7 linked regions of the Homo sapiens genome follow. The protein of the gene in region 6 purifies or fractionates together with the protein of the main gene of each other region. This does not show direct contact. Each region holds a gene or a part of one and is shown on either strand. Other genes may lie near its edges.

The links.
Region 1: the proteins of ITGA2 (region 6) and TVP23B fractionate together in Homo sapiens (co-fractionation; one large-scale study listed by BioGRID). This does not show direct contact.
Region 2: the proteins of ITGA2 (region 6) and KIAA1191 purify together in Homo sapiens (co-immunoprecipitation; one large-scale study listed by IntAct). This does not show direct contact.
Region 3: the proteins of ITGA2 (region 6) and TSPAN15 purify together in Homo sapiens (co-immunoprecipitation; one large-scale study listed by IntAct). This does not show direct contact.
Region 4: the proteins of ITGA2 (region 6) and CD47 purify together in Homo sapiens (co-immunoprecipitation; one study listed by IntAct). This does not show direct contact.
Region 5: the proteins of ITGA2 (region 6) and KAZN fractionate together in Homo sapiens (co-fractionation; one large-scale study listed by BioGRID). This does not show direct contact.
Region 7: the proteins of ITGA2 (region 6) and TSPAN5 purify together in Homo sapiens (co-immunoprecipitation; one large-scale study listed by IntAct). This does not show direct contact.

The regions. Positions count from the first base shown.
Region 1 is NC_000017.11:18,797,509-18,802,014, reverse strand, and holds part of TVP23B (Golgi apparatus membrane protein TVP23 homolog B), read right to left. Parts: intron 4,437-4,506; coding exon 4,347-4,436; intron 3,204-4,346; coding exon 3,072-3,203; intron 633-3,071; coding exon of another isoform or gene 630-632; exon of another isoform or gene 586-629; intron 1-585.
Region 2 is NC_000005.10:176,344,854-176,348,961, forward strand, and holds the end of KIAA1191 (putative monooxygenase p33MONOX), read right to left. Parts: intron 3,504-4,108; coding exon 3,397-3,503; intron 3,211-3,396; coding exon 3,068-3,210; intron 2,956-3,067; coding exon 2,747-2,955; 3' UTR 1,209-2,746; downstream 1-1,208. Other genes in the region: SIMC1 (SUMO-interacting motif-containing protein 1), read left to right, coding at 330-592. UniProt on the Homo sapiens protein: Potential NADPH-dependent oxidoreductase. May be involved in the regulation of neuronal survival, differentiation and axonal outgrowth.
Region 3 is NC_000010.11:69,505,113-69,508,469, forward strand, and holds the end of TSPAN15 (tetraspanin-15), read left to right. Parts: intron 1-1,011; coding exon 1,012-1,128; intron 1,129-1,716; coding exon 1,717-1,866; 3' UTR 1,867-2,554; downstream 2,555-3,357. UniProt on the Homo sapiens protein: Part of TspanC8 subgroup, composed of 6 members that interact with the transmembrane metalloprotease ADAM10.
Region 4 is NC_000003.12:108,073,751-108,078,256, forward strand, and holds part of CD47 (leukocyte surface antigen CD47 isoform 1 precursor), read right to left. Parts: intron 1-4,506. UniProt on the Homo sapiens protein: Adhesive protein that mediates cell-to-cell interactions. Acts as a receptor for thrombospondin THBS1 and as modulator of integrin signaling through the activation of heterotrimeric G proteins.
Region 5 is NC_000001.11:14,597,109-14,602,115, forward strand, and holds the start of KAZN (kazrin), read left to right. Parts: upstream 1-1,576; 5' UTR 1,577-1,874; coding exon of another isoform or gene 1,875-1,889; coding exon 1,890-2,115; intron 2,116-5,007. UniProt on the Homo sapiens protein: Component of the cornified envelope of keratinocytes. May be involved in the interplay between adherens junctions and desmosomes. The function in the nucleus is not known.
Region 6 is NC_000005.10:53,092,816-53,096,255, forward strand, and holds the end of ITGA2 (integrin alpha-2 precursor), read left to right. Parts: 3' UTR 1-1,964; downstream 1,965-3,440. UniProt on the Homo sapiens protein: Integrin alpha-2/beta-1 is a receptor for laminin, collagen, collagen C-propeptides, fibronectin and E-cadherin. It recognizes the proline-hydroxylated sequence G-F-P-G-E-R in collagen.
Region 7 is NC_000004.12:98,476,479-98,480,984, forward strand, and holds part of TSPAN5 (tetraspanin-5), read right to left. Parts: intron 2,333-4,506; coding exon 2,207-2,332; intron 1-2,206. UniProt on the Homo sapiens protein: Part of TspanC8 subgroup, composed of 6 members that interact with the transmembrane metalloprotease ADAM10.

The sequences.
Region 1 (4,506 bases), on a different chromosome or scaffold from region 6:
TCCTGACCTCGTGATCCGCCCGCCTTGGCCCTCCCAAAGTGCTGGGATTACAGGCATGAGCCACCATGCCGAGGTCTTAACCCATTTATGCTGTAGGCTGCAATTTTGTGAATTTTTGCATGAGTGAAAAATCAGACCTTGGTGATGACCTTGAGCAGTAGGATATAAATAACTCCTACATGCTTAGTGTTCCAATAATGGAACACTAGGCATAAGTAGGTTAACACAGGATCAAACTGGCTTTCACATAACCTCTCCCTGTTTTGTTTTAAGGAAGTAGAAACACTGCTAGAAAAAGACTGGGCTGACTCTCTTGGATGGATGCTAAAGCTCTAAGGTCTTACAAACAATCCAAAGCAGAAGGGAAGAACCAGAAGAGAGTGCACAGCCAACCAGCAGACAAGAGCCCCACTAAGGAAGAGAACGCAAAACCAGGCAGCCCAGCCAAGAGAGCAAGAGCCTGGCAAGTTCTCCACATCGCACATCACACCTGTGTCTTCAGGCCACCAAACCCAGCACTGCAACTCCAGCTCAGAGCAGCAGCCACGTGCCTCAGACATCAGGAGAAGGTGGTCAAGGGGGATTCACCCGCACTAAACCAGCAGAAAGAGAAGGGCTGGACAGGACTGTCACTGTAAGGATAAGCAAAATGGATAAGGAAAAAGGGAAGTGCATTTATGCAAAACTATAGTGAAAAAAGAAAAAAGAAGCATAGTATACAGAAGATAGGTGAAGAATCTACTCGAAAAGAAAAAAACCCCACCAAAATAAAAGCATTCCTCGGACTATTTCACCCTACAGAAAAACCTAAAGAAAAGAACTCAAAAAGCATGAGGGTGAGATAACAGGAGATGAAAACGGAGCTGACAAAGCTAAGGAAATACAGAGAGAAGCCTTAGCTGAGCACTTAAAATAGTTACTGTTCTCTCCTCTGCACTCTCTACCCCATTACTTTGTATCATTAACTAACATCCCCTGTTGTATTTTTTACTGTTTGTCTACCTTCCACTAGAACATAAGCTCTACTGGAGCAGTCAACTTGTTTACTGTCCCCTAACTTATCCCCCTGTGTCTCCAGACAGCTCTGACATAAGAGTGAACTCTTAAAATTGCTGAATAAATAAGGAAAAGATGAATAATTAAAGCAACAAGAAAATAGTAGATGAGAACAAATAAAAATGATCCAACATAAACGTAACTGGTACTTCAAAATGAAAGGTCAAACCATAGAACATAAATAAATGCAAAGATTTAACAGAAAAAATTTTCCTGATTCCAAGCAAAACTTTGGTCTGCCTGTCAGAAAGGCACAGACTCCAGAAAACTTGATATGGAAAGATAAATACAGATACATCTGGGTTACATGAACTAAAAAAAAAAACACCTTATGAGGAGAGATTACAAAGGTTAAGTAAGCCTGGCCTCAGACTTCTCCAAGATATTCAGTGAAAGAAAATGATGGAATAGCATCTTCCAAAAAGAAACAAACTGTGACCCAAGAATATTAATCCAGCCAGGTCATCATTTAAGAATAGTCAATAGGCTCATATGTTTAAACATGAGTCAAAAGAAAATGTAGCCAACCAATAAGTAAAAGGAGAAGCTGCAGTAAGACTGGTGATAGGCAATGAATCGACTTTTTTAAAAAACAGATCAAAGACTAAACAACCAGTAAGAAATATGTTTTCAAAAGATAACTATTATAAAACTTGGTAACACAAAAATAACATTGGAACAAACAAGAGAGAAAGGAGGAAACTCATAGGAAGGAATATGAGTGTTTATTTTCTTCCCTTTCTAAACAGAGTCTATTAAGTCAATAAACAGGTTTAAGTACATTAATTAATGTTACAAAGAAAACCACTAGAAGGACTAAAATAAGACTATAATAAGCAAAACTCTAGAGGTAGGAGGAGGGAGAAGTTAAAGAAACCATATTAGCGTAAAGTTTCCCATTTTCCAGAGCAGGAACTCCATAAATACTGAATAAATTTCCTAATTCATGAAAGAGGGTAATGATATAAACATATAAAGTAATTAAAGGTAACTACCAGAAGAACTGAAAAAAGACAATAAGCTTCCAATAAGCTTCCAAATCCAAAGAAGGAAAGTATGAATGTATGAGCACACACAAAGAAAAAAAGAATCTATATCGCAAAATAGGACTAAGAAAATACTACAAATTAGGAGGAAAAACATAATTAAGGCCAAAATATATCTGATATCAATAAATATTGTGTGAAAATTCACACAATATTTATTCATATCAGATATAAGATAGAATAAGAAAAAATAATATGAGATATAAAAAAGAGTAAGACTCACAAATTGGGTCAAGTGACAAACTATATTTTCCAAAGACAGCAGCAACAATATCTCCTCTTCCACAAAGTCTTCTAGCACCTTCTTATTCCTTATCAAGAGCAGAGCCTAATTCCCATTTCCTTGAATGTGAGTGGGCAGCAGAAGCGATGCTATGACATCTTAGCTAGATTGTAAAAGCTTGCGAGCTAGAACACCCCACAAGTGAAGTACTGGGCTGCCACGTAAGCAGTCCCACCACCATGAGGCCACCATGCCATGAAGAAGCCCAAACGAAGGCACAGGGAAAAACATGTGGAGAGGCCATGGGACCTCATGAAGAGGAGATGGCTCACAACCCCCATCATTCCAACTACTGTCTGACTACAACTACTCAAGACCCCAAGCCAGAATCTCCCAGCAGAGCCCTTCCCAAGATCCTGACCCATAGAAACTGTGAGATAATGGCTGTTGTTGCTCTAAGCCACTATGTTTTGGAGTGATTTGTTAGGCAGCAATAGGTTACCAACCATTATTTCCAGAAAAGACCACTAATAATCTAGAAAACTGGTGGGAAGGGGTTTTTTAGGATCTCTTCTCCAGTATTATAGAGAAAGGTAAAGTTGGGAAGCAAAACTTGGGAATTACATGATGAAGCTGCCTATTCAAGATAGGTCCCTAATGATAAGGACTCAGTTGTAGTTGTTGCTTCCTATGATTACCATCAGACATCTTAATGGATTATTTGAAAGTTCTACACTGATACTCACCAACCACTTTACTCTGAAGGAGAAGAGTGCACTAAAAGCAAATATCACCCACAGTACTGGACAGGCAATAAGTCCCAACCAAAAGATTCTTGATTCAGCCTCTGACACAGTTTTATTCTCTTGAGAGGACTCCTATAAAAGAACATAAATTCAATTATCATGTTGTGAAATTTATCAATAAAAAGTTCAACATGTTTAATAAAAAACATATTACCCACAAGTTCAAATATTAATACACACAGCCCAACTCCTAAGTTAGAACCCAAAAATACATGACTATCACTCTTGTAATTTTAGGAACTGATCTATATTAACTCAAGAATTTTGCATTTTCAGGGCAGGATGGATGGTTTACCACAACTCATGACAGTAAAGAGTGGTCTCTGATAGGATTCTATTCAATTCTTCTTGCACTTGTACTATTTATTCATAAGGAAGCTCTAAATGATACCTTTCCTACCAATGATCAAGGAAATCACAGTTATAATCATTCTGGAGACTAAAAGGTCAAATTAGGGTCCAGAGGAAAAAAAAAAAACGGAATCAAGGGATTCTGGACAATAATCAAAATGTCTTAGCAATACCCAGGAAGTTACAAGGGTGGTAAGTTGTTTCCAAGGTAGATTCTATAATATAAAAGAATACAGGCTCATTGAACACAGTGCCACTTTCTTAAAATAACTTGTCAATACCCTTGGTGTACTGTCGCCAAGAATTTGGTCCTCTGCTTCCAAAACTTATTTCCACAAGGAAAGTGAATATTCACTATAGTGTAGCAGGCTAACCCAAAACAGACCAGGATCCCCAGGGCTCCTGAAGGCAGAAGCTTAGGAATAGAGTGCTCCGATCAGATATTCTATCCAGCTGCACTCCTCCTCCTTTTTCCTGCCCAGAAATGAAAGACGACCACAGGAGCAAAGACAGAACAAGATGTTAAAAGCAGTTATCTGCTGAGCATAGAGGGATTTATGGAGACACTAACAAAGGCAACACAGAGATCTTTTATCAGCAATCCCTGACAGGCAGCTTAGCACACTGTATGAACTCAGACCCAGTGTCTTCCCTCAAAGGATTCTGTTCTGTATATTGCTTGTTTCTGGTCTGAACTAGACAGAAAAATGCATTAAATTCTAGAAGGCCATCTCCTTTAGTGCTGACATGCCAAGTGATTTGGTATAGTGTTTTTAATTCTGAATACTTCATCTTCCAGTATTTAAATATAGTCTACAAATAATTTAGCTGATAACATTATTTAAAACAAAAAAGGCACTTTACCTTTCTAGATTCAAACACCCAATGGCTCTTTCCATCTTCATCAATGTGATTCCACCAACGTAGGCCAACCATTAGTCTACCTGTGACATTCTGGTGAAGATTAATATAAACAGGCACATTTTAAAAGCATTATTTAAAGATCTATCACAAGCTCCTATCT
Region 2 (4,108 bases), about 120 Mb from region 6:
TACTATTGGCTAAAACATGGACTAGATGAATATGTCTAATTGTTTCCTCAGTATTTTCATTTTTTGACCATGTTATGTGATCATAAAAAATGACACAGATCCAAACCATATCACTTTTTTTAATGTAAAACTTCTTAAGGACCCGAGAGAACTGAGAACAAAGGGCCTTTTGGAAGTGGAGTTACTGCAGGCACTCACACAGCCTTCGACTTGTATCCCTGTAGCTAGTCAGCAAGTCTTTGCCAAGACTCTACCTACCAAAATTAGACTTCTTAAAAAGAATTAAAAAGCAGTTCAGAGCACCCAACTGACTTTTTTCCCTCTTGCAGAACACTTAAGGAGTTCCGTGATCGACCGAAAGGACTTAATAATCAAAAGGATTAAGCCCAAACCCCAGCAAGGAGATGACATCACAGTGGTAGACGTAGAGAAGCAGATTGAGGCCTTCCGCAGCCGCCTGATCCAGATGCTGGGGGAGCCTCTTGTCCCCCAACTCCAAGACAAAGTGCACTTGTTGAAGCTCCTGCTCTTCTATGCTGCGGACTTGAACCCTGATGCAGAGCCCTTTCAAAAGGGCTGGAGCGGCTCCTGAGGGCCTGCCAAGCACTGAATGCCAAGAATACCTCCTGAACTCTCTCTCCAACTGCTCAGAAGCTCTAAAAGCATGAAAAGTGGTTAAAATCTTACAGGACCAAACCTGCATTATTTAATCAGTAGGTTGTAATTTCTAACTCTAGTAAATATCTTTTTTTAAATAATCCTATCCTAGCCTGTTCTCAAATATGGCTTAAATATACAAGGTATATATATTTTTTAATAAATTATTTATCTATACTTTTTTGAAACAGGTTAATACTCTGTGCATCACATGTTTAACATTTTCATTCAAGATGTGGAAAAAATCCCTCTGCTGAACCTAGTCTATACACCAATATTATGTCATTCAAGGTACCGACAACCTGTTTCAGGAGAGAGACGTTCATTTTTCCCTAATGAAATGCAAGCATTCTGTTAGACCTATTATATTGCCTGTTAATTTGACTGTAATGAATAGGGGGTAGAAACAAAAGGATCAAGTGTGTTATAAAACATTTGATGTTAAAAGGAGACAATAAAAAGGCAATGGTTTTTCAAAATACCAAGTTCAGTGTGACTCTGGGTGGGTAGAGTGGAATAACTATTGTTAAAAGGACAAAAAAATAGCCACATTTGAGAAAGTAGTAAGGATTTTTATTGTCAAAACGAGATCATAATAGAAGACACAAATAAATTAATTGTTCTCATAATTTTAGACTCCAGGGCCTCTCTATGGAAAGGCCAGCTTCTTATACAGACAAGGTACTATCCAAAACAAAAAGCAGGTATTTGAGACAGTGTTCAAGACAACAAGTGAACTTGTACACAGTGAAGAGAAATAAAAAGGTGGCTTCTGTATTTCCCTCCCTCAGTAAGGTTATGTGTTGCATAAAGGGATGAGGCTCATTTTGGTGAAAAATGCTTTCATACAGAAAATTTTGAATTGAGTGACCTCCCCGCACAGGCGTTCCAGGCCCTGACCTGAACAAGGAAATCAAAGTAAGTTAACACCACTGGCTTCACATGAACCTCAAGACTATAATCTAACGGTATCTACCATCTCCTTTACTTTAAAAAAGTTTAATGTCCATTTACCTATACCAAATCAGTAGACTTAATTTTCTCTCTTAGGAAGTTTTTAACCAAATTACAGCTAAATTAATCTCACTTTAAAGTGCAAGAAAGGCTCTGCTAGAGTAGTGTTTGTTCTGTGGCATAGAAAGAGGAGCATGCCTCCTCCGGCACTGGCCTAAGAGGCCCCACATGAAGAACTAGCTGCAAGACAGTGATCCATTAGGTCTGCCAAAAAGCAGGGGGACTCAAGGTTCAGCCTAGAAAGAGGGGTCCCTGCCAAGTCTGGCTTTTACCTGTACCCAGGTCCCAAACAAACCTTGGGTCCCCTAACTGATAAGGCTGGAGCACAGCACCAGTCATCAACAGGGCCAAAGTCGTCTTAGCGAGTCAGTGAGCACCTCTAAGCCATGATTTGTCAATGCTCACATGGATAGTGGTAAAGGAATAAAGAAGCCTGGGTTTTGGAACAGTACAAACATTCTTTACCTAGTAAGCAGTGATCAAAGTTCTTACCTAGGGTAAATGATGAAAAAAATAGGTAATGAGGTCCCCATACACCCGTGCTGAGAATATTAGTCTAACTTTAAAGCAGTACAAAATGGCTTCTTCCACACAACAAGGGCAAGCTTTATACTAATGTTTCTCAAAAACCAATTACATCTCCAGCTCTAGCCTCAATTTAATAGGTTTTTTACTTTACTTTATTTATTTATTTATTGATGGCGTCTCGTTCTGTCGCCCAGGCTGGAGTGTAATGGCATGATCTCAGCTCGGTACAACATCTGCTTCCTGGGTTCAGGCGATTCTCCTGCCTCAGCCTCCCAAGTAGCTGGGACTACAGGCGCCCACCACCACGCCCAGCTAATTTTTGTATTTTTAGTAGAGACGGGGTTTCACCATGTTGGCCAGGCTGGTCTTGAACTCCTGACCTCAGGTATCCACCTACCTTGGCCTCCCAAAGTGCTGGGATTACAGGCGTGAGCCACCACGCCCAGCTGATTAAGTTTTTAAATATACCTTTCCTATGTCAAAGCCAAGGTAAAAGGGGAGTGGGATGCAAGAAACCACCTTTACCAGAATCCCTGGAAAGAGGGCTCTAGAAGCCAGTGGGTGTGAGCACATTCAGGTCACGGGGTTTGAGGTTATGGGCCCGTGGTGGCTGTTTCTTTCCTTCCATCACTGGGATGTCCATCTTGGGGGGCTTCAAGGCTGCTGGATCTTCAGCCATTCGGTTGGCCTGGGCACGTATCAGTTCCAATGGAGAGGGCTTCTGGGCTCCTCGGTAGGCCTGGGTGGCAAAACTTCCTACAAAAGTGAACCAGAGTGCAAATGATTTCAAAACCAGTAAACAGCTCCCGGTATACAATATGGTAAGATGTCTGCCATGCTGCTCTCTTTTTTGAAGGTGCTGCCTTACCAGAATCGTACTTCTGAAGGGATCTCGGTCCAAAGAGGCTCCACTTATCTGACAAGTTTCTGTCCTTATCCCCACTTCCAGAGTCCATGGTGCTAGGATTTGGGCCAGGTAAGGCTGTGGAAGAACCAGAAGTGAACCAGCCCCTGGGAAAGAAAGAACAAAACATATCCTAAAATACCTCTTCCTTCGCCCCTAGAAATGTCTCACACCAAAAGAACAGGGAACTATCCCTTCTCCCTCTGAAACCACAGGCTTAAATACAACCTCATCTGCCACACTAGCTTTCCTGAAGCACGCAGGAACTCGGAAGGGTCACAGGAAGGGCTCACCTGGGCCTCTGCTTAGGTGAAGAGTGCGGAGTGGTGCTTGGGGTGGACTGGGCTGATGCAGGCTGCCTCTCTTCTTTTGTTACCTCTCCACTCTGTAACTTTAGTTTCTGCTCAGATGGGTAAGAAGAGAGACTTTTTAAAAATGAAAGCAAATTCCAAACAGATAAGTCTAGGCATAAAAAATTTGGTTCGCATTCTAACTTTAGGCAGAAGACATCTACAGGTGGAATGATTTCGGATGATCTAACAGGTAGTCCTTTGTTTTTGCCATACTAGATGGAACTCCATCTCCTTAAAAAATGTGTTCATTCTACACTATATCATGAACATCCCTGTACTTAAAGCTTTACACTACAACTTTTACTTTCAGAAACGTGAAGTAATTTCCCCACATTCCCCCAGACAGTAAAATGGAAGAGCCAGAACGCTAGCTGCCAGCCTTCTTGGCCTTTTAAGCAGGGCTTAAGCTCTTGTCTCGCTGCTGCTCCTACCATGTACAAAGCCCTGCCCATCCTCAGTCTCTCCAAGCCAATACTCAGGCATGCTGCTTCTCTCCAGCTAAATGCTTCCTCTGAGGAGCCTGTTCCATTCTCTCCTCCTTCTCTCCCATAGTCAGCCACTCTGGGTTCCCTCAGCACCGTGAGCATTCCTCTGACTCGCAGTCTAGTGGGGAGAGACAGGTCTACATCTCAGCTCTTCTAGAGCAAGGTTC
Region 3 (3,357 bases), on a different chromosome or scaffold from region 6:
AGAACCAATGGCCATTTTTATAACAAACAGTGGTAATGTCCTATTTATTATCCCCAAGTGAAATTCACAGATAACCTACCTACATGCCCAATTCCAATACAATTAACATAATGATCTGAGATAAAGTAGAAATGAAATACAGCAATTTACAGCTGTTTAACATAGTTCATCATGTAAGTGCTTAGGCAGTGGGGGGTGCAGAAGACACAATGTAGTCAGGTGTCTGCACTGATGTGAGGCATCCCTGAGGCTGTAGTAGCTACAGGGCAGCTGATACTGGGCATTGTGTTGGCGACTCACATACCATGGGCATCATTTTTGCCACTGGCATGGTTTTTAAAAACGGTGAACAATTCTTGATAAAGTTCTGAATTAAATAATGTGTAATCATTCCTTAATTTACCTAGTAGTACTTCTGGAAAATTCTTTGTATATTAAAACCAATGCAGAAATGCTTTTTTTTTTTTTTTCCCTTAAGAGACAGACAGGGTCTCACTGTTGCCTAGGCTGGCCTCAAACTCCTAGGCTTAGGCACTCCTCCCAACTGAGCCTCCATAGTAGCTGGGACTGCAGGCACTGGCCACCATGCCCAACTCTGCTTTGTTTTTTATATGTACCTGGAGTGGGGCTATTGGCTTGGATAATTATAAATAGGCTTTTCATGTATGGAAAACATCCGTGAGGCTTTTCATGCAGGGACATCTGAGAAGCACACAGGCAGGGCAGTTGTTTGTGGAGTAGGATTACCCTGAGCTCTGCAGTCCCTCAGCCGCCAACCTCGTTTGCTGGGGCAACCAAAAGTGCCACCACGGTGTCCCCAGTCCTCTCTAGAGAACAGTACTGTCCATTAAGAATCAGAATCTAGGGTCACCTTCTCATGCTGCATATGGGAAACTGAGGATCACAGCGGTTGAGGGACTAGCCTGGACCTTGTGTACATGGCAGAGTCGGGGCTGTGGCTCCTGCCAGCCGAGGTCCTCTGCTGGGCTGACCCAGCTCCTTCCCATGCAGCGTTTCAGTGTGCAGGATGTCATCTACGTGCGGGGCTGCACCAACGCCGTGATCATCTGGTTCATGGACAACTACACCATCATGGCGGGCATCCTCCTGGGCATCCTGCTTCCCCAGGTGGGCAGGCCGTGGGTTCAGAGAAAGTGTGACTTGGTGATTGCAGAAGGGCAGAGAAGGTGCAGAGGGGAAGAGCGAAGAGGCTTTTTTCATAGAAGTCCAGGACTTGCCTGGGGAGGGCTGCATGGCTGGAAGGAGGGGCAAATGGCAATAGCAGTCGTGGCGAAGCTCTTCCAAGTGCTGCGCAGGCACTGCTGCTTCACTTCTTTTTGTGAGGGAGGCACTATTATAATGCCTATTTCACAGAGGAGGAAACTGAGGAGCAGCAAGCTTCAGTGACTTGCCAAGATCCCCTAGATAGTGTGCAGCAGAGCTGGGGTGGAGGCAGGAATCCCAGAAGGGAGGGGCCCTTGCTGATGGGGCACAGCGAGGCGCTCTGGGATTTCCTGGGAAGGGGAGAGGGGGCCCAGGTGGGAGCTTCTTGGGCAGTGTGGGTGCTGGGAGAAGTCTCTGCTGTGGGTGTTGCCCAGGTCACACAGGACCATGAGGGCTTGGGACTGGCTGCTTGGGTTTCTGGGAGCCGGGAGCTGCAGGGAGGGCTGCCCTGATTCCCAGCAGGCCCTCACCAGCCCTGCCCCTTCTTCTCAGTTCCTGGGGGTGCTGCTGACGCTGCTGTACATCACCCGGGTGGAGGACATCATCATGGAGCACTCTGTCACTGATGGGCTCCTGGGGCCCGGTGCCAAGCCCAGCGTGGAGGCGGCAGGCACGGGATGCTGCTTGTGCTACCCCAATTAGGGCCCAGCCTGCCATGGCAGCTCCAACAAGGACCGTCTGGGATAGCACCTCTCAGTCAACATCGTGGGGCTGGACAGGGCTGCGGCCCCTCTGCCCACACTCAGTACTGACCAAAGCCAGGGCTGTGTGTGCCTGTGTGTAGGTCCCACGGCCTCTGCCTCCCCAGGGAGCAGAGCCTGGGCCTCCCCTAAGAGGCTTTCCCCGAGGCAGCTCTGGAATCTGTGCCCACCTGGGGCCTGGGGAACAAGGCCCTCCTTTCTCCAGGCCTGGGCTACGGGGGAGGGAGAGCCTGAGGCTCTGCTCAGGGCCCATTTCATCTCTGGCAGTGCCTTGGCGGTGGTATTCAAGGCAGTTTTGTAGCACCTGTAATTGGGGAGAGGGAGTGTGCCCCTCGGGGCAGGAGGGAAGGGCATCTGGGGAAGGGCAGGAGGGAAGAGCTGTCCATGCAGCCACGCCCATGGCCAGGTTGGCCTCTTCTCAGCCTCCCAGGTGCCTTGAGCCCTCTTGCAAGGGCGGCTGCTTCCTTGAGCCTAGTTTTTTTACGTGATTTTTGTAACATTCATTTTTTTGTACAGATAACAGGAGTTTCTGACTAATCAAAGCTGGTATTTCCCCGCATGTCTTATTCTTGCCCTTCCCCCAACCAGTTTGTTAATCAAACAATAAAAACATGTTTTTTTTTTTTTTTTTTTTTTGCCTTTCCTGTGTGCTGTTTTGTTGGGGCGGGGGTAAGGAAGGCTGCAACCTGGATTTGGAAACCCCTTGTGGATGCGAGGATGAAGGGGGTGCATGGGGTGAAGATTTGGCATAGCTTGGGATACAGGTGGGGGGTTGGGGGGAAAGCCTCAGGGCCAGAGGTGACCACGCCTATTTTACCGAGAACCGAGGGAAACAGCCTGGGCCAGGTACAGCATGAGGCTCCACCTCCAGGAAATGGGGTGGATGGGGTGGGGGACCAGGGAAGCGGAGTTGCCCACAGGTCCACCTACCGCGCTCCCTGCAGCCCTCAGTGTGCCTAATGGCTGCCGCGCAACGCATGCAGAGCGTGGTGTCGGTCGACCCCTGCTGGAGATGCCGGGACTTGCGTGCGTCAGTCCACTCAAACCTTCGGGCCAGAAGACATGGGATCTAGATTTTTTGTGAGGCTCTTAGTAGCCAGGGCAATAGAAATAAAGTAGCAAGAGGCCGGGCATGGTGGCTCACGCCTGTAACCCCAACACTTTGGGAGGCTGAGGTGGGCCATCACGAGGTCAGGTGTTCGAGACCAGCCTGACCAACATAGTGAAACCCCATCTCTACTAAAAATACAAAAATTAGCCGGGCATGGTGGTGCGCGCCTGTAGTTCCAGCTACTCAGGAGGCTGAGGCAGGAGAATCGCTTGAACCCGGGAGGCGGAGGTTGTGGTGAGCCGAGATCACACCACTGTACTCCAGCCTGGGCAACAGAGTGAGACTCCATCTCAAAAAAAAAAAAAAAAAAAAAAAAAAAAA
Region 4 (4,506 bases), on a different chromosome or scaffold from region 6:
TCAAATCTTCTTTGGCAGCCACATGGAGAATGGATTACAGGGAAGCAGGACCTGTCAGAAAGTTACAGCAGCAGTCATTTGGAAGGGAGAAGGGTGTGACCAACAAACGCAGTCCTGAGCTCAGTTTTACTCATCACATTTGAAGATCTAACAGGGAATTGCTCCAAAGGAAGATGACTAGAATGGGGATCCCGAAACCATGAGCAATGGCTAAAAGAACAGAGATTTTCATCACAGAGAGGTATAAACTTGAGAGAAATACTACAGCCCTCCCAGTGAGTGAGAATAGTAGCAAGTTTTAGCTTGATTTAAGGAAGAACTGAAATTGCCTGATAACAGACCAAGATCCTCTGGGAAGTAATAATGTCTCATCATGTCAAGCTTTCAGTAAAAAATCTGAATCGCCAGCTACTTGGGGTGTGATAGAAATAATTCGTAAATTAGATGATGAGATAGACTAGATGACTACTTGATGACTCCCAGATTCTATGTGAAACAAGAAATATGAGACATTTCAATGACAGAGAGGAAGATTACAGAACAAAAAATACTGTCTAAGTGATTCTTTTTTTTTTATTTTTGAGATGGAGTCTCACTCTGTTGCCCAGGCTGGAGTGCAGTGGTGTGGTCTCAGCTCACTGCAACCTCCACCTCCCGGGTTCAAGCAATTCTCCTGTCTCAGCCTCCCAAGTAGCTGGGATTATAGGCAGGCGCCACCATGCCCAGCTAAATTTTGTAATTTTGGTAGAGACAGGGTTTTATCATGTTGGCCAGGCTGGTCTCAAATTCCTGACCTCAGGTGATCCACCTGCCTCAGCCTCCCAAAGTGCTGGTATTACAGGCGTGGGCTGCCACACCTGGCCTGTCTAAGTGATTCTTAACTGGAACTTATCAGTTTGTCACTCTCCCTTCTCATTATTGTGCCAGGATTTTAAATTGTTCCCTGATATGTGGGGCGGGTGGGGGGGGGGGGCACACAATGGAGAAGGGCATCCAGGATTCTCTCAGTTTGAAATCACTGCTGCACATTTCTGCTGTATTTGAACTACAGTCACTGATGAACATGTTCCTCCTCTCTCTAATTTGTTACAGTGGGAAAAGTTTGAGGATCATGGAATTAGATATTTAAGAACCAACTGAGATGCTGGGGGAAAAAAACCAACATTTTATATAAAGCCACTTATATGCCTATTAAGCTATTGATTTGTTATGGTAGTACTGTCAGATGACGTTAACTCTTGTTCCTCAAGGGGAGAGTGAGACATGATACTTCTTTCAGCTCTGAATTTCTATGCCACTAAGAACATAAATTAAGCTTAAAATGGACTAAGAACAATGTCAGATATTTTTCCATCACAAGATTAATAAAGATAAGCCAAGGACATTCACATCCTTATTCTACCCAAGCTATGGCTGACAACTGTGTCTATCACTCTCCTCCAATTCCTGGACAGGCAGAATGGCTTCCACGAAAATGAACTTCTTGCTAGTGGAAAGGCAAAGAAGTGATATTACAAGGGTGTAGTCAATGAATAAGTGTTTAATTTTTGCTTTCAAGCTGAAGTGTTATTAAAACCCAGGACCTCATTTGTCTTATCACTGTACAAAAATGAGACAACCTAAAAAAGTGAAGACACCATTCCTATCAACAAAGTGTCTCCTTCAAACTCCCACAAACATAGGGAACACCAGGTTACACACACACACACACGCATACACCACAGTAACATTTACAATCCTAAAATGCAAACCAAATTTTTACTTGATGTTTCAGGATTGTGATGGCTTTTCTGATGTGTCGACTTGCTAGGCTACAGTCCCATTATTTATTTAATCAAACCCAGAATTCTAAGGTGGTCCCAAAACCCCTGCCCTAGCCATGCATCTTTTATAATTCCCTCCCCTTGTGTGTGGGAGACTAGGACTGTGAATGTATTGGATTTCATTTTCATGATTATATCACCCAGCAAAAGGGAGTTTGCTGATGTAATTAAGATCCCAAATCAGCTGACTTTAAGAAAGAGAGATTATTTTTGAGGGAGAGAGAGCTGACCTAACCAAGTGGTCTCTTAAAAGGGTCTGGGTTCTTCCTGGCAAAATAAACTCAATATGTGAGAGGGATTCAACAAGAGGAAGATTCTCCTTTGCTGGCTTTAAATATGCAAGGGGCCATGGGGCAAGAAATGAGGGCAATCTCTAGGAGCTGCTACAATTCCTTGGCAGATACTTAGCAAAGAAACAGGGACCCCAGTCTTACAATCACAAGGAATTGAATTCTGTCACAATTATGTGAGCCTAGAACAAGACCCCAAACTCCAAATAAAGTATGCCCTGGGCAACACCTTGATTTTAGTCTTTTAAGACTTTGATCAGAGAACCCAGTCATGCCATGACCAGGCTTGCCACCTACAAAACTTTGAGCTAAAAAATGGGTAGTGTTTTAAGCTGCTATATTTGTAGTTGTTATGCAGCACTAGAAAACTAATACAAAGATCTTGCAATGCCTTCATGTCTTCATTATAAACAGACCATATGTCCTGTTGATAATAATGGAATTGGCAACACTGCGGAACTTGAACTGACCTTTCTAAACAAAACTCTAATAGCTTAGAGAAAAATAAACTTTAAGTTTTCAAGTTTTTGTATTGCTAATAGAACAGAAATATTAATGATAAATTTTATGATTACTAGTATTTGCATTCAGTATTTAGTTATTTACAAGGTGTTTTCACATGAACCACATATTACGGTGGTAAAAATACTGGGTTTTGATGCCAAAGAGATCTAGGTTTAATTCTTGGCTATTACTCTGACCTTGAACAATACCTTGAATCTCTTTTGCTTCCCTATTTGTTAAATGGTAAGAACTCCATCTATCTCCTAGAGTTCTTGAGAGGATAACAGGACACGACTTACATAAAGTATGTGGCACATGTGCAAATAAATGTTAGGTCACTTCACTCTTCATATTTGTACTGCAACCACTTCCTTGAAATCAGCAATAATGTCTTATTCATCACAGAATCTGTGATGCCTAGTACGGTGACTGGCACATGGTAGGCACTTAGTAAAATTTTGTTAAGTAAGAGAGGTATTATTTATATCTCAAACATTTCCATGATGGTGATGCCATCTTTACTGTACTAAGAAGAATTTGAGGGACAGATAGGTTGAGTTTTTTATCCAACTTTTCTTAAGCTATTAAACAGTGAAGTCTAGAAAACAGCTTTCTAATTTCAAGTCCAGTGCTCCTTCTAATGGACTATATCATACATAGGCACAGAGGTATATAAAACTATATCTTATAGTGTTTCCATGTATTCAGTCCTAGTCCTCCAAAAAATTTAAAAAGGCACAAAGAATGGTCACTATTATCTGCATTCTATTAAGTAGAATTCACTTCTCTATTGAGCAAATTCTGTTTCTCATTTATGCCTGTATTTGCAAAAATCACGACATAGTAAAAATGGTTTCTAATGCTTAAATCCTCAAAGTCCGTGACAAGTAAGTATTCTTATTAGAAAAGAACTTATACTCCATAGTAAGAGTCCTGCCCCATTTAACCTTTTTGTGCAGATAACTTTTTAACTGGTTTTTGTTTGTTTGTTGTTTTTTTCAGTTAAAAATGGTTACAACATAGTGGCACCAGATACTGGTGAGGATGTGGAGAAACCAGATCACTCTTACATTGTTGATGGAAATGTAAAATGAAATAGCCACTCTGGAAAAGTCTGGCAGTTTCTTTAAAAACTAAGCATATACTTACCATACAGCCCAGTAACCATACTTCTGAGCATTTATCCCAGAGAAATGAAAACTGTGTCTACACAAGAACCTGTACACAATTGTTCAGAGCAGTTTCATTTGTAACAGCCCAAACTTGGAAACAACCAAAATGTCCTACTATAGGTAAGTGGTTAAACAAACTGTGATATATTCATACTATGGACTACTACTCAGCAAAAAAAAAAGTAAGGAAAAAAGAACTATTGATAGATGCAAAAACTTGGATAGATCTCAAGGGCATTGTGCTTAGTGAAAAAGCCCTTCTCAAAAGGTCACATCTTGTATCATTCCATTTATATAGCATTGTTGAAATGACAAAATTATAGATATGGAGGACAAATTGGTGCTTGCCAGGTTAGGGACAGTGGGAGGTGGCGGTATGACTAGTAAGAATAAGCATGAGGGAGATGTTTGTTATGATGGATAGGTCTATGTCCTGATTGTGTAGGTAGTTACGCAAATAAACACGTGATAAAATGAGAGCGAACCATTAACACACACTGCACCATTGTGAACTTCCTGATTTTCATATTGTGTCACATAAGAGGAAACCATTGGGGGGACTGGGTGAAGGGCACATGGAAGCTCTCTATCTTTGAATCGTCCTGTAAATCAATAATTATTTCAAAAAATTAAAATGGATGCAAAGCCAAATGTCTCAAACCTCTGGTAGAATTTTCTACATTCTCTATAATAAAACAATACTTTCTCCTTTTAATG
Region 5 (5,007 bases), on a different chromosome or scaffold from region 6:
AGAACTGAATCCTGGTTTGCAGATACACTAAGCAGTTCTAAGTGCCTTGGTTGGTCCAGTTGGTAAGAACTTGTGTTAATGAGGTTAAGGTCAGGGTTCGATCCCCGAACTGACCCATTAGCTGAGCAGAGCGGACAGAGTGAAGAATTGTGTCTTCCTGCCACATGCTCCACCATCAAATCCTGCCCTCTTGCAAAAGCTTGTTAGTGGTCACAGGGGAATGGAGCAAGACTGTTTTTATGGTTCCACAGAAAAGGGGGGAGAAATCTATCATCCAAGGCCTCCTGAAGGCGCAGCAGGAGGAACTTGCAATCAGATGATTACTTTCTTCCAGTCCCGCTGTCACCTGGTTTCTGCGGGCCCCTTAAGTAAATTGCTTAACCCTATGCAGAGCCTCAGTTTCCTTATCCCTAAAATGGGAATAATAATCCTCACTCACAAGAGATAAGAATGCATATAAAAGCACTCTACACGCAGTTTTTGCTTGGTTCTTATGGGCTTCCTGTAAGAACCTGAAGGGTGGGCAGCCTCATTTTTCCTCGCAGCACCCCACTGGCTTCTGCAATCTGCTCTTTGCTGCTCTCCGGAGGTTGACTGAGCTGGAATGATGGCGCCCTGTTGACCAGAGGGTTGCTGGCTGTTTTAAATTGTCCTATTTGCATGGAATGAAGTTTGCTATGGTAACAAGGTCTGGTGGCTGGAATCCAGGGCCCCAGTGAAAAATGCAAAGCCTGTGGTCTGGGAGAGAAAGAGGAGCTGGAGAGGGCATATCAACGTCAGGTTACCTCAGTTCTTCTGTGAAGAGGGGATGGGTAAACTGAGGCAGCAGGGCTCAACTCTTCTGCTCCCAGTAGAAGAAAGGGAAGAAGCCCCATCGACGCCTTCCTTCTTATCTCTCAACCTCATCTCTGTCCCCGCCAATATTCAGCCCGGCTAAGAAGCTTAGGAGCTGGCTAAGGCTGCTCCTCCACCTGGATGCACACACAGGGCTAGGGCTGTGGAGAGGCGGGAGCACCAGCGGCCCACGCCGAGGAAGATAGGCGCTCCCTCCTGGGGTGGGCAGCGCAGGTCTGGCCTGCGGGTGGGGGGTGGAGAGTGAGAGGCACGCGGGGCACCAGCTCAGCTCCCCTCTGGGGATTTCGTACTCGCAGTTTAAGGAACCGGTGGAGCACGAACTCCACTCCTGAGCTGGCGCAAGCGTCTCCCTTCCATGGAGATCCACCCCGGCTCCCCTCTGAGGCCCCCTTTCCAAGCACCCTCTCTTCCGAGCACCCAGCACCTCCCCAACCTTAGCACGGCTCGGGGCACCAGTTCTCCAGGGCGGGGGCTGCCCCACCGCTCAAGGGAGGGGACAGAGGGCCGGCCTCGGTCCAGGCGACCCCTGCCCCTCGCCAGGGGCGCCACCTTGGCCCCCTCCCGACTGCCGTCCGCCGCCTCCGCCCCCCCGGGGGGTGTGTCTCCGAAGTACGGGGGCGCGGGAGGCCAAGGGTGCCCCCAGCCTCCGACCGAGACCCCCTCCCGAGCCGGCGGCGAATGGTAGGCTCCATTTAAAGAGTGCCTGGTGGCGCGCGGTGTCCTTCTTGGAGCAGCTCTCGGCGCCCGCCCGCCGGGGTCTCGGCGATCGCTGCTCCTCCTCCTCCTTCTCCTCCTCTTTTTTCTCCTCCGCCTCCTCCCCCCGCCGCCTCGCCACCGCCGCGGCTAGGGCTGGAGGCGCCGCTGTCATTCCTGTGCCGGAGGAACCGGCGCTGCCGGTGCCTGGGGGTCGGGGCGCGGGCGAAGCCGGGCCGCGGAGGACACAACAGGTAGAGCCGGGGGTGCCCGGCCGCGCGCCCCCCGCGCATCATGCAGCTCTTTGTCACCTCTCTCGCCCCCAGGCCAAAATCCTGAGCATGATGGAAGACAATAAGCAGCTCGCGCTCCGCATCGATGGGGCGGTCCAGTCGGCCAGCCAGGAGGTGACCAACCTGCGAGCCGAACTCACGGCCACCAACCGGAGACTGGCGGAACTGAGCGGCGGCGGCGGCCCCGGCCCGGGCCCGGGAGCCGCGGCCAGCGCCTCGGCGGCGGGGGACTCGGCGGCGACGAACATGGAGAACCCCCAGCTTGGAGCGCAAGGTAGGATCGCCCCGGCGCCCAGGGCGGAGGAAGGCGAGCAGAGCACGCCCGGCCTCGGAGGTGGCCGGGGACCCGGGGTCCCCCACACCCGGGGCGAAATCGCTTTGCATTCTGGCTTGTAACCCTTTCCGCCCGGCGGTGGCCACCGCTGCTCTCCGGCTGGGAGTTGCAGGCTGCTGTCATTCACGAAAACCCGAGCGCAGTGTGCACGGGGTCACACGGTCACACCGGCCCCGGCCAGCCTGAGCGAGGCGCAGCCGGCGGGTCCCTTCCGGCATCAGAAAGTGCCCTTTCCGTGGCACCAGCCCCCTAGCTCCGTGCAAACTTTTCATGCCGGGGCCTTTTCCCCACCCCCCGCAGGGGTGAATGGCACAGTTCCCCCCACTTCCTTAGGCTCCTTCCCAGAGAGAGCTCCGGGCTCTGCCGCCGTGGTTGGGATAGAGGATTGCACTGCTGTGCACTTTTCTCCGCGGATGCCAAATCCCTTGGCTCAGTTGCATCTGGACTTTATTTTCTTCTCATTTGAGGTCTCTCAGGCATTGGAATCTATAGATGCAACAGTAGATGCTCAGCTCAGCAGGGAGTTTAAATTTCCGCAAATATAAACACCGAGAGCACTTTCCAGGGGGATACTGTAGACCTCAAAGGTTGAGCGGTAGAGAAATGAAGGCTTAGGGTGGTGGGCTGCAGGGAGCCCGTTTGAAGGGACTCTGCGGTTTAGAGAAGAGGAAGAAAAAGACAGTTGGTTTGTGTTCACATTGACAGAGATTAAGCTCTGAAACCCCCTGCAAGACATAAAGGCGGATGGGGCATTCCCTAAAATGTACTGTTTGGTTTCTGTGACTTAGAAAGTAAAAGGGTAAGCAGGCTTTGGGGGATTTTTTTTTTCTTTTTGCCTAATTGCCCTTTAAGAAACAGTATCACTGGTTATTAATATCATTTGAATTGCAAATTAAACTGCTGAAATCCAGAACAGGACAGAAACAAATCTCCAGTCCATGAGGTCCACTTGTCTAAATATGTCACTTGAAGTGCAAGGTACCAATTGCTCAGTGGCTCAAAATGATTTTCTGGTTCTGTTGTCATTTCAAGAGCTTCTCTTGAGGGTTGAGAGAGTCTGTTTTCCTAAGAATCTGGTTCTCTCCATCAGTCTCTGTTTCCACCTTATCTTCCTGGGAAGGTGTGCTTTCTTTGAGGTGAGATGTGAAGCCTGCCCACGTGCAGTTTTATGTCGAATTCCAAGTCAGATCTTAACTTGGTACTCCCGGAGCCTGTTGGAAGTCTTAGGAATTGGGGGGAGTACTTTGGTAAGGAAGTAGCCATGACGTAATGGTGAGAAGGTGTTGTGGTCCTAGTGCTTGCTGCAAGCTTGACATGTGGTTATTCTTGTCATCCTTGCAATGTCATTGTGTGCGAAAGAACATTCTCCACTGGAACCTGTGCAAAAAAAAAAAAAAAAAAAAAAGACAGACTGCAAGGTAATGCTTCACTTTTTATAGGCAGAGGCTCTGCTAACATTAAAGAAATAGCTAAGAACTGGCATTTTGCTAAGAATCAAAAGCTGTATAGTAAAGGACACTGAACAATGCTCGTTTATTTCCCACTGTCTGCCCCTTTCTCCGCGAAGGAAAAGTTAAGTGGCTTTTTATCTGAGTCCTGGGTCTGGTTGTAGACTGGGCAGGCTAAGGCAGTCAACGCAGTAATGATGTCCACATGCTCAACTTGAAAACTGACATACTCGCGGATGGTTAAATTGTTGTAGTGGAGCAACAGGGGGCTGATTCCTTGTTCTTTTTTCCTACACAAATGCACAGGGCTGTGGAAATGAAAATGGCTTTTGGATCTCTTGGATATCCTTAAAAACACATAAAACCAGCAGCTCCCATACGCTCTCAGGACTGTGCCTGCCCATGTCAGTGGCTGGCTGTGGGTGGTAGGATGAAGGGTGGTCTTGATTTCTCCTCTTTGTACATTGGTATGTCTCAAAATCTTTCCTAGGGGCACTTTGTGATTTTTATAATCAGAAAATAAAATGTTCAAAGGTTTAAACTCTACTTGATTGTTGGCCGCATAACCGTCTAAACTGATATGCATTTCAACAGATGTGATGGTTGAAAAGAAAACAAGCCCCCGTATAAGTTCAGTGGGGTATCATTTACTTGTCTGTAGCAACAGTACTTGATACATTATTTAGCCTCTGTAAGTTTGGGGGATTTTTTTTTTTTGATGGGGGCGGGAGTTGTTTTTGTTTGTTTTTGTTTTTTTCATAGCCTGTGGCAGCATCCTGCTAGCACAGAAACCCTCTGCAGAGGTGGTCTGGTAGTTTCTTTTGCCATTGCTTTCATTATCCTAAAAAGAAGCCTTGAGTTCTCACACAAGTTAATTTTAAAGTGCAATTGATTGGGTTCCACTTGATTCTTCGTAATACACCTCCAGGGAGGCTCCCAGAGGCTCAGCTCCTCAGGGTTTCTGACTGTTCTTCCAAATTAGTCTTGTGTTTTCATTTTGTCTGTGTTGGTGCAGTTCAATGGGCCCAGACCCTAAGAGTGTTTAAGTGCTATTGAGTTATCAGTTTTCAAATCAAGGTTTTGAATAAAACGAGTATCTTTGCATTTCAAAATGCAACCGTGTAAGTCATCTTTTAACGAAAGGGCATTATGCACATATTAAATGCATGCTAATGTAACTTTAACAATATTAGTACAAATGGTTTTGGGAAAGAGTCACCTTTTGCTTCCTCTGCCAAGAGACTGTTAGATTCATTTTCAAATGTTTTTGTTTTTGTTTTTTAAATTCTTTTTTTAAATGAATGAAGCAAACTCATCAATCCATCATTGGCTGTTTTGTTCCAGGGATGACAACGGGCAGTAGGTAGGTTGGTATCCCCTTTTG
Region 6 (3,440 bases):
AAAAGACAATGTGGCCAGGCACGGTGGCTCACACCTGTAATCCCAACACTTTGGGAGGCTGAGGCCGGTGGATCACGAGGTCAGGAGTTTGAGACTAGCCTGGCCAACATGGTGAAACCCCATCTCTAATAATATAAAAATTAGCTGGGCGTAGTAGCAGGTGCCTGTAATCCCAGTTACTCGGGAAGCTGAGGCAGGAGAATCACTTGAACCCGGGAGGCAGAGGTTTCAGTGAGCCGAGATCGCGCCACTGCACTCCAGCCTGGGTGACAGGGCAAGACTCTGTCTCAAACAAACAAACAAAAAAAAAGTTAGTACTGTATATGTAAATACTAGCTTTTCAATGTGCTATACAAACAATTATAGCACATCCTTCCTTTTACTCTGTCTCACCTCCTTTAGGTGAGTACTTCCTTAAATAAGTGCTAAACATACATATACGGAACTTGAAAGCTTTGGTTAGCCTTGCCTTAGGTAATCAGCCTAGTTTACACTGTTTCCAGGGAGTAGTTGAATTACTATAAACCATTAGCCACTTGTCTCTGCACCATTTATCACACCAGGACAGGGTCTCTCAACCTGGGCGCTACTGTCATTTGGGGCCAGGTGATTCTTCCTTGCAGGGGCTGTCCTGTACCTTGTAGGACAGCAGCCCTGTCCTAGAAGGTATGTTTAGCAGCATTCCTGGCCTCTAGCTACCCGATGCCAGAGCATGCTCCCCCCGCAGTCATGACAATCAAAAAATGTCTCCAGACATTGTCAAATGCCTCCTGGGGGGCAGTATTTCTCAAGCACTTTTAAGCAAAGGTAAGTATTCATACAAGAAATTTAGGGGGAAAAAACATTGTTTAAATAAAAGCTATGTGTTCCTATTCAACAATATTTTTGCTTTAAAAGTAAGTAGAGGGCATAAAAGATGTCATATTCAAATTTCCATTTCATAAATGGTGTACAGACAAGGTCTATAGAATGTGGTAAAAACTTGACTGCAACACAAGGCTTATAAAATAGTAAGATAGTAAAATAGCTTATGAAGAAACTACAGAGATTTAAAATTGTGCATGACTCATTTCAGCAGCAAAATAAGAACTCCTAACTGAACAGAAATTTTTCTACCTAGCAATGTTATTCTTGTAAAATAGTTACCTATTAAAACTGTGAAGAGTAAAACTAAAGCCAATTTATTATAGTCACACAAGTGATTATACTAAAAATTATTATAAAGGTTATAATTTTATAATGTATTTACCTGTCCTGATATATAGCTATAACCCAATATATGAAAATCTCAAAAATTAAGACATCATCATACAGAAGGCAGGATTCCTTAAACTGAGATCCCTGATCCATCTTTAATATTTCAATTTGCACACATAAAACAATGCCCTTTTGTGTACATTCAGGCATACCCATTTTAATCAATTTGAAAGGTTAATTTAAACCTCTAGAGGTGAATGAGAAACATGGGGGAAAAGTATGAAATAGGTGAAAATCTTAACTATTTCTTTGAACTCTAAAGACTGAAACTGTAGCCATTATGTAAATAAAGTTTCATATGTACCTGTTTATTTTGGCAGATTAAGTCAAAATATGAATGTATATATTGCATAACTATGTTAGAATTGTATATATTTTAAAGAAATTGTCTTGGATATTTTCCTTTATACATAATAGATAAGTCTTTTTTCAAATGTGGTGTTTGATGTTTTTGATTAAATGTGTTTTGCCTCTTTCCACAAAAACTGTAAAAATAAATGCATGTTTGTACAAAAAGTTGCAGAATTCATTTGATTTATGAGAAACAAAAATTAAATTGTAGTCAACAGTTAGTAGTTTTTCTCATATCCAAGTATAACAAACAGAAAAGTTTCATTATTGTAACCCACTTTTTTCATACCACATTATTGAATATTGTTACAATTGTTTTGAAAATAAAGCCATTTTCTTTGGGCTTTTATAAGTTATATATTTTACTATTTTTATCTTATACATTCACTTTGCTCACATCCAAGACTCAATTTAAGAAGACTGAGGCTATAATTAATTTGCCATAAGTGTCCAGTCTATGTTTCTAGCAGTGACCACAAGGATCTTCTTTTGTAAGACTCTTAAACTGCCTTCGAAGTTTTGAGACAGTGTAAAGCATTGCTCCTCAAAGTGTGGCCCAGGGACAGATGGTGCTGCATCACCTGGAGCCTGTTAAAAAACACAGATCTCAGGGGCCACTCAAAACTATTCAAGTCAAATTGTAAGTTCTACAGCATCCCCAGGTGATTCATATTGCATTGAAGTTGAGAAGCACTGCTCTAAAGCTTACCTTTTGAAATAAAATGTGTGCTTGGAATAGAGAGGGAAAAAAAATCAGCCAAACTGCTGCAACATGCAAAAGCAGAGTCATCTGCACAGTTTAAAAAAAATCATAATAAGCAGGAAGGTTTAAATATTTTTAAAGAGTAAATATGCTGAAATAAATATGCTGTAAGTTATAAAGTAAGTACACGTTGGGCTCACAGACTGCCATCGCTGTACAGATGGCAGAGTAATGCAAAGACAGGGTGGAAAGTGTGTGTGTGCTGCCATAAATAGCGATGCACCAGCATCTCCATTCATGTCTGCGGCGCTCTCTCACATGCCTCCCTGCCCATCGCAGTTGTGCTGAGCCGTCTCAGGAGGGCAGCTCACTGCAGCACAACCATCAATAAGTGTGTCTGCTATATATCTCACATTAAAATACAATCTTGGAGAGCTGAATGTGGGAATTGCAGCTACTTGGGAGGCTGAGGCAGGGAGGATCCTTTGAACCCAGGAGTTCAAGGCCGGCAACATGAGACCCCCCCCCTCCCAGCTCTTAAAAAATAAAATGTTAGAGAAAGAGAGCACTAAGTTTTATTTCTTTGTTTTTCACAGAGCAGGTTAGGAAATGCTGTACAGGTTAGGAAGACCTGTATTAAAGCAATCATTTATATCCCATAGTTAACTGGAAAATAATTTTATACTTACTTTTTAAAAAGTACTTCTTTTTATTTATTCTACATCACTTGTTAAAAACTACAAATTGCATTTTCAAAAACTCCTTCCTGATCCTATCATAATCTTTTAATATTTTTAAGGTGTCAATTAAAGATTGGACATCATCTTACATAAAATCAGGGCCTAATTTTCATTTCGGAACCACTACAGCCTGACTTTAAAGAAAATGGCTACTAAACTGAACTTTTGGTTCTATGCAAAATTAAATCTAAGTAAGACTCAAGTTGCTAAGAGCAACTTTACTATAACTTTTACTATGGCTCTGGCTCTACTGCCCTCTGCTGGATGATCCACCGAACTACATCACACAAATCATTCTTGAGAGATCTTCACTGTACCAGGTGCTCAGTAACTGTGTAAGATGTCTAAATCACTTATTTCTCAAAAAAGGCTGAAAATATATTGTGACT
Region 7 (4,506 bases), on a different chromosome or scaffold from region 6:
AGAAAAGTGAAATTTACTCATTAGACAGAAAGCCCACCTAGAAATGAGCAGAAGACTTCTGTTACGCATTAGTAATAAAATGTGTATCTGGGCACAAAGACTGCAGCACTATGTTAAACACTTTATATACATGATCCCATGTCATTATTGCGACAATCTTCAGAAGTAGGTATTAAAATATGCCCTATTTTACAAATAAGGAAAACTAAGGCTTGGGGAATATCAGAAAAGACAGCAAGTCTATCACACAGGAGGCTCAAGATTCAAAGTGGTGCCAACCTCAAGAAGCTTATGGGATTTAGGGAACTGGAGACACAGATAAAAAACATAAAGGGCACAGTGAATCTTCATGTATGCTCTTTTGGATGGACTGCTACTTTTTAATCTATGTACTTCCATGTTACTTAAATTGTTTTTCAATGAGCTTTTAATAATTAAAAAACAAAACAATGCCCCGACCACATAATCACACAGACAACCTGACGTCTCACAGGGTCTGATCAGAAACATGGTTCCACTTTTTCGGGTTGTTTATTTTCCTTCTCTGCGGGGTGTGGGGCAGATTTTATTAGCTTAGAGCGCAAGGAATGAGCTAGCTCTGCCCAGAGGATCTGTAGGTGAAAGGGGAAGCATTAATGCCTCTGAGAATACAGAATTCTCCCAAGGGAGTGTTAATGTGGGACAGGAACTGGCGACAGGAGGCGCACTGTGCGGCACCCGCTGGCCAGTGCAAGGCCACCAGGATGAGCCCCTCAAGCTCTGAGTGGGCACTCTGCTGCCATGTGGCTCTCCTCAGAAGGGAGAGGAGGTTTGAGCTGGTGGGAAGGGCAGCTGGCGGGGCAGCACAGTCCTTAGTGACTTTGTCTCCTCTTTCAGACCAAGAGAAACAGCTGAGGTGGTCCCCTGGAGGAAGCCCACAGGGAAGTTCTGCTTTTCCACTCCAAGACCATAGCTCCTTTTAAGAGCCCCACAGCCTCCACCATAAGAAGGAGCATCCCCACTGAGCTCATCAGCACCCACTCGGCTCTGCTTCTGAGGGGTAAGGGCGAGCCTTGGGGAGTACATCTGGAGACTGCAGGGCCAGAGAACAGTTGAGGAGTCCCAGAAGGGTTCTGCAGCTAGGAGCACACAGAGATGCGTGGAGTAACCTCTCATGTTTGTCATTCTAACACTAGAGAGTTACCTTTTTTTTTTTTTTTTAAGAATTGTGGTCTCACTCTGTCACCAGGATGGAGGGCAGTGGCATGATCATGGCTCACTGCAGCCTCAAACTCCTGGGCTCAAGTGATCCTGTTTCAGCCTCCAGAGTAGATGGGACCACGGGTGTGTGCCACCACACATGGCTAATTTTTTAATTTTTTTGTAGAGATGGGGTCTCACTATGTTGCTCAGGCTGGTCTTTAACTCCTGGGCTCAAGGGATCCTCCCACCTCAGCCTGCCAAAGTGCTGGGATTACAGGTGTGAACTACTATGCCTGGCTTAAGAATTGCATTTTAAGTCATTCTATATACCAGGCACGATTTGACACAAAATATAATCAAACCTGTGGCAAAAGTGAGTGACTTACAAATAGATTTTATATTTTATTCTTTTTTATAATAAAATGCAAACTGCATGACTATAGTCATGATGACATTCAGGAGTCTGGGCAGCTGTGGTCTTCCTACACAGCAGTCCAGGCCTATCTTGTCTCAAACTCTCCTCCTACTCCTAATAGTTCCCCTAGAACTAAGCCAAAAAGAAAAGGGTTACTAACCCCAAACCAATGCAGAGAGCTCTCATATGAGCCTGCCCTTCTCATGAAGAAAGGCTAACAGATGATACAGGCAAGTTGCCTGGGTCTCATATTCCACTCCATTGCCTGCTAGCAGTGCAAGCTTGGGAAAGTCACTTACACCTCATGTGCCTTGATTTCTTCCCCTGAAAAGGGAGGGTAATGGTGGTATCTGCCAGTAGGAATGTGCCCAACTTAAATGAGCCAACACACATAAAGGCTTAGAATAGGAACCAGCACACACTGCTAAATTAATGCCAGCAATTATTACTCCTACTAGGAAGATTTGAGCACCATAACCCCCTACAGGAGCTACAAATACGAGTAACCAGGTAAGAAGAGGGTTCAACCAAAAAATCACTCTGCTCGTCCCATGCACACTCTCGGCATGATGTACAGAGTAGGCCAATAGTTCGCTGGCATTCACTTACTGCGGGATCTTTAGTGCAGCAGGAGAATGGAACGCCACATCGCTCTCGACTTGCATTGGAATCTGTGCAATTGAAGTAAATATTTAGGTTCCAATCATCAGCTCCAAAAGCCCCACAGCACTGCCACTAGAGCAAACAGGAAAGAATTAGAACATCCCAACTTGGAGGCAAGCAGTCACCTACACTCACACCCGCCGAACGACACCAGCTTCTGCCAGCTCTGACCTTCTTTTCTGTCCTAGACTTTATTTTTAAGCCAAACTGAACCTAAATGGCCCATATAAAATCTTCCAAATTAATTAGGGCTGAAGGTTTGTAGGGATGTGTTGGCACGTGATTTAAACAACTGATGAGACCTGTGGTGTTAGGTGGAAGAAGGGCAGAGCAGCTGTACAGCAGGGCTCAGTTAGAACAAGATCTGTTTGGCTTGGGCACGTCATTCTAGAAGGAGAAACAAGAACATTCTAGAAGGGTAAATAAGACACTAACGACAGTGGTAGTGACTGAAGGAGGCAACTGGGGTTATGGGTGGGCTAACTATAGCTTACTTTTTCAAAGTTTTGATCTCTACATTCTAATAGTTTTTTTAAAGATCTGTTTTGTTTTATGGAGCGCAGGGAGACCCCCTGAAACTATTGCTATGGAATAAAAGATGAAATGCTCCTGATTACTGGAAATACAAAATTGCATGCAGGATTGTGTAAAGACAATGCCAGGTTGGACTGCCAGAATGAGCCAACAGTGCGTGATGTGCTTCCCCCTGCAGAGAGCCTATGAATGGACGTGCAGTCAGGGAGGTTTCACATCACCAAGATTCCTATCCCAGAAAAGCAGATGTTCATAGCTCTGGGAATAGAATGCGACCTTTGTGGAGAGCCTATAAACAGACACATGAGGGGCACCTGTCCATATGTATAAGACAGGGCTATAAATGCCCTCATCTTGCCACGGCTCTTCTAGACCTCTTTAGGGTTAAGGCATACTCCCTTCTGAGAATTTCTGGTCTAACTGGTTGTGTAGCTTCACGTCCTGTTTCTATGGATTGTTTGTAACTGGCTTTTGCTGCAACTGTTACTGCTGACTAATATCTTGCTAATCATAGGTTGTGGAAAGACTGTGTTTCTGTTTTAAGGCTCTGTTAGAAATTACTGAAGCACACACTATATTGTAAATTCTTATCCCTGTATACTGTACTTTTGCATACAGATGTTATGTTAAAGAATTACTTCATCCCCATGTGACCATCTCACCTCATAATCAAATGACCTAAATCCCTCACTAACCTACCCCCACCCTCACTAAACTTAATAATAAATTCTGGTATATCCAGTGCATTGTTGGCACTGCGTGACCAGAAGGCGGTGACCCCCCTGGACCCAGCTTTCACTATCTTGTGTGTGTCTATTATTTCTCGACCTGCCGATCCGCCTGGGAACAGAGAGATCCCTGTTGCATTGCAGGCTGCTGGCCAGATCCCGCAATAATGGAGGTATAACTGACATACAATAAATTGCACATTTTAAAGTATACAATTTGATAAATTTTGACATCTGTATACATCACAAAAATGTCACCACAATCAATGGATATATAGTTGATATATCCATTACCACCAAAAATTTTAGAGGTTAACTTTTCATCATATTTGTTTCTACTCTGAGTTTGTTTAAAAACAAGTGCATGTGTTTTACATTTTCAACTTTAAAAAGTCAGTCTTCCAATTAAAATATATTAAAACAAGCGGTTAAATTCAGTGGTTCTTAAATGGGGCCGGAGTCAAAGGCTACTACACAAGCCCCTTCCTCACTTCCCTGGGATGCACTTTCTCTACTTCTCTGAGTTAAATAAATATCAAGTCTCAACCATTTGAAGACCTTCCGGACCAACAGCTACTTCTAAACATTACATTCCATGATGCAAAAAGAAAATCACATGAAACTGTAGTATTTCCGTTTAAAGCACACAGCATCCCAAGACAACATGGTCCTTCCAGGGCTTGGGTCATGCATTTCGAGGTGTGTCCACAAAGCTCCATCAATGTGTCATGCAAACTAGTCAGGAATAATGCCAGGAAAGGGATTATTAGGGAGCCTGCACCCATTAGGACCTAATAAAACAGTGAAGTCGGCTGAGGACATGAATCAGGGCTTAATTTCCCACTTAAGGGGCAGCTTACTCCAGGACGAAATGTTGCTGCCACTGAACAAAACCACATAACCCTGCTCAGTCCTGAGTGCCTAAGGAAGGGGATGGCCTCCCTCATAAAGAGTGTCAACATGGCTGCTGCCTCCCTTCATCAC